2 linked regions of the Homo sapiens genome follow. The protein of the gene in region 1 interacts with the protein of each later gene in a pairwise test. Each region holds a gene or a part of one and is shown in the gene's direction. Other genes may lie near its edges. The genes, in order: NPC1 and MC4R.

Region 1 (3,822 bases):
CATCTCATGCTCTCTCTGTGTCCTGGCCCCCTGGGCATGAGAATGAACGCAGATTCCTGTGCACATTCCAAGCGGGGCTGAGGGAGAGGACGGCCTGCTGGTAATCCAGGCCTGAAGGAACTTGGCCTGTTCACTTGTACTGATGGCAGCTGGGGCGTGATCTTAGCTTTAGTAACATTATCCCACATTAAGGTTGCGATTCTTTTAGCCTCGTCATGCTCCTTGCCAGCCCATCCATGTATAGGGTTATGGGCTATCTCACTCCCCCATCCAGCCAGGCAGCCAGTTACCCACGGAAGCCAGATATATGGCCCAAAAATAGTGATGATGACCGGAAGTCTCTGGCCTTGATTTGGAAGCTTTGGGAGGTGGAAGATGAGTATCCCCATGTATGTTAGGTAAACCCTGAACTTAGGTTTTTCATAAGAACATACATCTGACCAGAGTCATATCAGTGAATCATTTATATCATGCATGTGCTTTGAGACCTATTCGAGGTATCATGGGATGACTCCTCCTAAAAGTTAAGTAGAAATGAATCTTGCAGCTTGATTTACTCACTGACTGGATGCTTTGGCCTACGTAAAATAAGTTGAAGTAGATTCAGTTTTTCTGAAGGCAGTAGCCACCGTTCCTGGGGAGCCTCCAGGGTGCCAGCGTCATGCCAGGCACTCCCTGACATTATTCCATTTCTCATCACGCAGCCTATGAGTAGGTGGTGGTATACCCATTTACAGAAGAGGAGACTGGGGCTCAGAGGTGGTCATTTTGCTCGGGGTTACATGACCAGTAAGTGGCAGGGCTGAGGTTGTTCCCAGGGCCCTTGCCCTTTCCTGCTTCCTATTACACAACAGGACTGAGTAAACCCTGTACCTTTGATTATACATGAAACCAGGTGGAGAAACAGCAGCTATGTACCAAAGAACCCAGAGCAATCGAGAAAAGCCCATCTGGCCAGGCGAAGTGGCTCACACCTGTAATCCCAGTACTTTTGGAGGCCGAGGTGGGCGGATCACCTGAGATCACCTCAGGAGTTCAAGACTAGCCAGGCCAACATGGCAAAACCCTGTCTCTACTAAAAAAATACAAAAGTTAGTTGAGCGTGGTGGCAGGTGCCTGTAATCCCAGCTATTCGGGAGGCTGAGGCAGGGAGAATTGCTTGAACCCGGGAGGTGGAGGTTGCAGTGAGCCGAGATCACGCCACTGCACTCCAGCCTGGGCTACAGAGCAAGACTCTGTCTCAAAATAAAAAAAAAAAGAAGCCAGTCTGGGAGAGAACAAGCTAAACCTTTGGTGTTCCCTTATCTGGGGGCCTTCTTCATCCCTGAAATGTACAGCTGGGTCTGACCTCTGAGTCCAGGGTCAGGTGATTTTGCTTAGCCTCAAGTGCTCAGATTCTGCTGATATTTTGCAAGACCTGGACTCTCTTGACACCCAGGATTCTTTCCTCAGGGGACATGCTGCCTATAGTTCTGCAGTTAACATCCTCCTTGGCCATGGCACCAGGGTCGGAGCCACGTACTTCATGACCTACCACACCGTGCTGCAGACCTCTGCTGACTTTATTGACGCTCTGAAGAAAGCCCGACTTATAGCCAGTAATGTCACCGAAACCATGGGCATTAACGGCAGTGCCTACCGAGTATTTCCTTACAGGTAAAGCCTGCCCTTTTTCAATGGGGTTTACCCAGCAAAGGGCCTACACTGGGTGGGAGTGGGGAGGGTTCCCTTGGCAAGATGCTGATTTTCAGGTTGGGTTCTGGCCCCTGCTCCATTCTGAGCACAGGGCAGTATATCAAAGGAAATGGGTGCTGGGCAAAGGAGTTCAGAATCTAAAGTCTCTGTGAAGGCCTGAGGGCTAGAGACGCAAAACTTGATCTCTGCGCCACTGCACAGCTGCAAGAGACACACACTGGAAAATGGCTTAAGGCAGGGGGCGCTTGGAGAGCAGGCGGCTCAGAGCAGGGCCCGGCCCACATTCTTGGCCAACAATGAACCAGAATCCCTAACTGCTGGTTATTTGGGATGCTGCCTGTATGTAGACTTTTTATATTGTTAGGGGTTTTTTTTCCCAGGAAGAAAAGTATTATGTATGAACTACTGAATTTAGAAACTGTAGAAAGGTAGGAGAAACAAGTGATTTATTTTTCCTGCCTCCCCATGATCTCGCTTAAAGCAGGAAGGCCTGGATTTGTTTGGAAGAAGTTAAGAGCCGGTTAGCTCTGGCAGAAAATAAATGAAAGCATGTTTTCCTCAGGCCTTGCACGGACCCCGCTGAGCCTGAGGTAGTGTCTCAGGATAGATCAGGATTCTTTGTTTTTTTGTGTTTTTTCAGAATGCTGTGGAATGCTCTCTGTAAATGTCTATAAAATAGCATAGATTGGGCTTATAAACAGAAACTTTATCAAAAATATACATTTTGCATCACTGCTGGGCCCTTCTCTGGGTGGTCAGTGGCCATGAGAGGTCAAGTGAGTTGCTTTCGGTGAGTCTTGTAGACAGCCAGCAAGGTTTTCTGCAAGGGATGTTTCCCAAAGGAGTCTGACCACTTGGCAGTGGTGACAGGATGAACACGCAGTGTTCGGGAGTGAGAGCGAGCTTTAATGAGGCCTCCCCTCTCCCCTCCAGTGTGTTTTATGTCTTCTACGAACAGTACCTGACCATCATTGACGACACTATCTTCAACCTCGGTGTGTCCCTGGGCGCGATATTTCTGGTGACCATGGTCCTCCTGGGCTGTGAGCTCTGGTCTGCAGTCATCATGTGTGCCACCATCGCCATGGTCTTGGTCAACATGTTTGGAGTTATGTGGCTCTGGGGCATCAGTCTGAACGCTGTATCCTTGGTCAACCTGGTGATGGTGAGTCCTCATACAGTCTCAGTTTGTCCCTAGCTCCTGTTTCACTTGGGGGAATTGGCTGTCTTAGATTCCATGTAAACCCTAAAGATGGAGTAAGATACCAAGTCTGGCGCTTGCTCTTGGCACACATGGAGAGGCAGGATGAGTGCTGGAGGAGTGCTGGATGGTGGTGGGACAGGGCATAGAGGGAGCGAGCATTGAGTTGGACATCTGGGAGCATAGGCACATTACAGGCAATTTCTGTTCAATTTTTTCTCTTGTCCCATTCCTTGCGGCTATACTAGTATACCTGATGGTGCCTCTGACCATGGAAATGTGATTTCCTGGCCTAGTTCTGGGCTAGTCTGCCTGTAATTTGTTATTCTTTAGAGATTGCACAAGCCTGTAGCCTGATGACAGCAGGATGTTCACTTTTTACTTAGAAAATTGCACCCCGCCCCAGGAGCTCTCCGACCAGTGCCTTTTGCCTCCTATGTGGTTATCAGGTACTTTTAATCATTAAAGATGAGAGCACTTGAGAAGGTATTCATGGAAAATAGAACAGTGTATCCGTACTCTCAGATATGAGCCCTGCTTCAGATAGGGGAGCACTGAGGTCCAAGAAAAGAAGTTGTGACAATGCGCCAGCTCGGTGCGGGTGGGGTGACCTTAACGGGTTCCAGCAATTTCTCCTGGTCAACACAAACGTGCCACAGAAAACCAGGCTTTTGGCTGTGTGTAGAGAGGGCCCCAAAAAGTTCCTGGTACAGTAAGATTGGTGTGATGGAGGCCTTGTAAGTCCAATGGGATGCTTGGCCTCCTCTAGCACCCAGGGTGCCCTGGGTAATTAGCACCCATCCTCAGAACGGGGTGGCTGCCTAGGGTCTTCAACAGGAAGAGAGCCATCCTAAAGGAAGTGCTTTATTTCAGAGCTGTGGCATCTCCGTGGAGTTCTGCAGCCACATAACCAGAGCGTTCACGGT
Region 2 (3,682 bases), about 37 Mb from region 1:
TTCAAAGACAGGAGAGAAAACTTGTGTAAAATTATGAAAGAGCTAATGCGATGAGCCCCACTGTCAACATGCCATTAGCTAGAATTTAGTCATAAGGTCCTACCCAATTCCAAAGGTGGATGGAAGACGTTAATTTATCTCAATGCTCAGGAACAATACTTAGTATTGTCTCTGTCACAAAAGGAAAGAGGATACATTCCCAACCTAAGTAACTGAGATTCAGAATTAACCCTGAAATAAGCAGCTACAAACTATAGAGCACTAAAACCAAAAATAATCATAGAAGAAAAGAATATACAAAATTTTGTATAATCTGTTGTTCAGTTAATTTGGAAAGTAACTTTGCTGCCATCTTTCAAACCACCTTAAGCAAAATATTCAGAAACTTCAATAACTAACTAGTATCACCAGTCTTGGCTTGATAAGTAAAGTTACTAGGTATTTGTCGGTTCAACTTACGATACGTTAAACTCTGGAGGTTTAAAAAAAAGTTGCTTAAAAAAAAAAAACAGAATGCAGCTTATTATTTTCCTGAGTTCAGTGTAAGCATAGTTACATTAATGCCGTATGAGTTTAAAATATTGTAAATAAAAAGCACCTTTTTTCAGCTATAACACAAACTCCTCAATAGAGAAATATGGGATATTAGTGCATTAAAATCAACCCCTTTTGAACCCATTCATAATTTATAGCTACCTACATAGTTCTTCCAGCCATACCATGTCTATCTGTATCATTAAATATCCTCTCTGTTTTTCAGGTATTTTAACTGAACCACTACTGGCTGGGTTCTTAATAAAAACAAAAAATTAAGAAGGTAAATAAATTCAGTATCCTAGCCAAAAAGCAGAGTATCTGTTTCAGGAACATAAGACAGTATACTTTCCATTTCATTTTACACACACACATGATGTCTTTTACATAAGAATGAACCTGGCTGCCTGAAGATAGCTTGTTTTGATATCACAGAATGGCCTCTAGGGATCAAGTTGTTTCCCTTGAAAACTTAAAAAGGGAAATTCAGTCTCTTATCCGGCTTGCTTCTCGACTTCAGACTTCAGGAGCTTCTGCATCTGAATCTGTGTCACCCTGCAATTTGTGTCTCTGAAACATAATCCTGTCTCACAGACTCCCATTGCATTGGGATTGGTCAGAAGGAAGCAGAGGAGGAGCCACCGTGAACATGTTTTTTTTCTCTCCACACATCATAAAAATCAGCAGCTGGCGCCTACAGCCCCTAACACTCAAAGCAACGCTCAGGCTGGAAACAGAAGCTTCCGAGAGGCAGCCGATGTGAGCATGTGCGCACAGATTCGTCTCCCAATGGCATGGCAGCTTCAAGGAAAATTATTTTGAACAGACTTGAATGCATAAGATTAAAGTTAAAGCAGAAGTGAGAACAAGAAAGCAAAGAGCAGACTCTTTCAACTGAGAATGAATATTTTGAAGCCCAAGATTTTAAAGTGATGATGATTAGAGTCGTACCTAAAAGAGACTAAAAACTCCATGTCAAGCTCTGGACTTGTGACATTTACTCACAGCAGGCATGGCAATTTTAGCCTCACAACTTTCAGACAGATAAAGACTTGGAGGAAATAACTGAGACGACTCCCTGACCCAGGAGGTTAAATCAATTCAGGGGGACACTGGAATTCTCCTGCCAGCATGGTGAACTCCACCCACCGTGGGATGCACACTTCTCTGCACCTCTGGAACCGCAGCAGTTACAGACTGCACAGCAATGCCAGTGAGTCCCTTGGAAAAGGCTACTCTGATGGAGGGTGCTACGAGCAACTTTTTGTCTCTCCTGAGGTGTTTGTGACTCTGGGTGTCATCAGCTTGTTGGAGAATATCTTAGTGATTGTGGCAATAGCCAAGAACAAGAATCTGCATTCACCCATGTACTTTTTCATCTGCAGCTTGGCTGTGGCTGATATGCTGGTGAGCGTTTCAAATGGATCAGAAACCATTGTCATCACCCTATTAAACAGTACAGATACGGATGCACAGAGTTTCACAGTGAATATTGATAATGTCATTGACTCGGTGATCTGTAGCTCCTTGCTTGCATCCATTTGCAGCCTGCTTTCAATTGCAGTGGACAGGTACTTTACTATCTTCTATGCTCTCCAGTACCATAACATTATGACAGTTAAGCGGGTTGGGATCATCATAAGTTGTATCTGGGCAGCTTGCACGGTTTCAGGCATTTTGTTCATCATTTACTCAGATAGTAGTGCTGTCATCATCTGCCTCATCACCATGTTCTTCACCATGCTGGCTCTCATGGCTTCTCTCTATGTCCACATGTTCCTGATGGCCAGGCTTCACATTAAGAGGATTGCTGTCCTCCCCGGCACTGGTGCCATCCGCCAAGGTGCCAATATGAAGGGAGCGATTACCTTGACCATCCTGATTGGCGTCTTTGTTGTCTGCTGGGCCCCATTCTTCCTCCACTTAATATTCTACATCTCTTGTCCTCAGAATCCATATTGTGTGTGCTTCATGTCTCACTTTAACTTGTATCTCATACTGATCATGTGTAATTCAATCATCGATCCTCTGATTTATGCACTCCGGAGTCAAGAACTGAGGAAAACCTTCAAAGAGATCATCTGTTGCTATCCCCTGGGAGGCCTTTGTGACTTGTCTAGCAGATATTAAATGGGGACAGAGCACGCAATATAGGAACATGCATAAGAGACTTTTTCACTCTTACCCTACCTGAATATTGTACTTCTGCAACAGCTTTCTCTTCCGTGTAGGGTACTGGTTGAGAATATCCATTGTGTAAATTTAAGCCTATGATTTTTAATGAGAAAAAATGCCCAGTCTCTGTATTATTTCCAATGTCATGCTACTTTTTTGGCCATAAAATATGAATCTATGTTATAGGTTGTAGGCACTGTGGATTTACAAAAAGAAAAGTCCTTATTAAAAGCTTAACAATGTCTCCTTCGTGTTATTCATAAGCATTGGACACTTTGCGTGCTTTCGTAACATAGAAATCAGAGCCTCATTAAACATATTCTAATAAATGCTTTATTATATTATATTATCCACCATTGAAATGTAGAGAGTTCATTCTAGCAGTTAAGGGAAAATATTTAAAGAATAGATGTATAATCATTTTTAAAAATATCATCACTGAAATTTCAAGTAATTTAATTAAAGGTTTGTTCATCCTCCCTGTGCAGAAGTAGAAATGAAGCTCCTCTAGAGAGAAAAACAGGTGCTGAAAAAAGAGAGATGCTGAGTTAGAAAACTATGTGTACTTCTCAGACACAGAAAGATTCATCTCCCTTAGCAAACAGCCTGATATTTCACACAGGCAATTCGGTTTGGGGTGGGTGGGAAAAGGCAGCTATAGGGATGAAAGTGTCCTGGAAAACCTAAGTTGCCATGTCAAGCTAAATTTCCTGTTACCAAATTATCCCTAAACAATATTAATAAAACAGAGAATGGGGATTTATGCCCCCTTTAAACAAGGATTCAGGGTCTGCTGAAGTGTCCAGAAAAGGTAATATTGTACTGAGAGATTTAGCTTCCTGTTTCTAGAGAAGTACAGGACTGACATCGAATTCTTTCTCATTTCACATGAAAATGACTTGCTGTTTACTTATTGCTGATTTTTTGAACTGGAGTACAAATGTTGATTATCAAGGATTTTAAACTTCAAAAC

The links.
Region 2: the proteins of NPC1 (region 1) and MC4R interact in a two-hybrid assay, tested with the Homo sapiens proteins (one large-scale study listed by BioGRID and IntAct).

The regions. Positions count from the first base shown.
Region 1 is NC_000018.10:23,534,507-23,538,328, reverse strand, and holds part of NPC1 (NPC intracellular cholesterol transporter 1 precursor), read left to right. Parts: intron 1-1,452; coding exon 1,453-1,656; intron 1,657-2,628; coding exon 2,629-2,860; intron 2,861-3,769; coding exon 3,770-3,822. UniProt on the Homo sapiens protein: Intracellular cholesterol transporter which acts in concert with NPC2 and plays an important role in the egress of cholesterol from the endosomal/lysosomal compartment.
Region 2 is NC_000018.10:60,370,333-60,374,014, reverse strand, and holds MC4R (melanocortin receptor 4), read left to right. Parts: upstream 1-1,239; 5' UTR 1,240-1,665; coding exon 1,666-2,664; 3' UTR 2,665-2,953; downstream 2,954-3,682.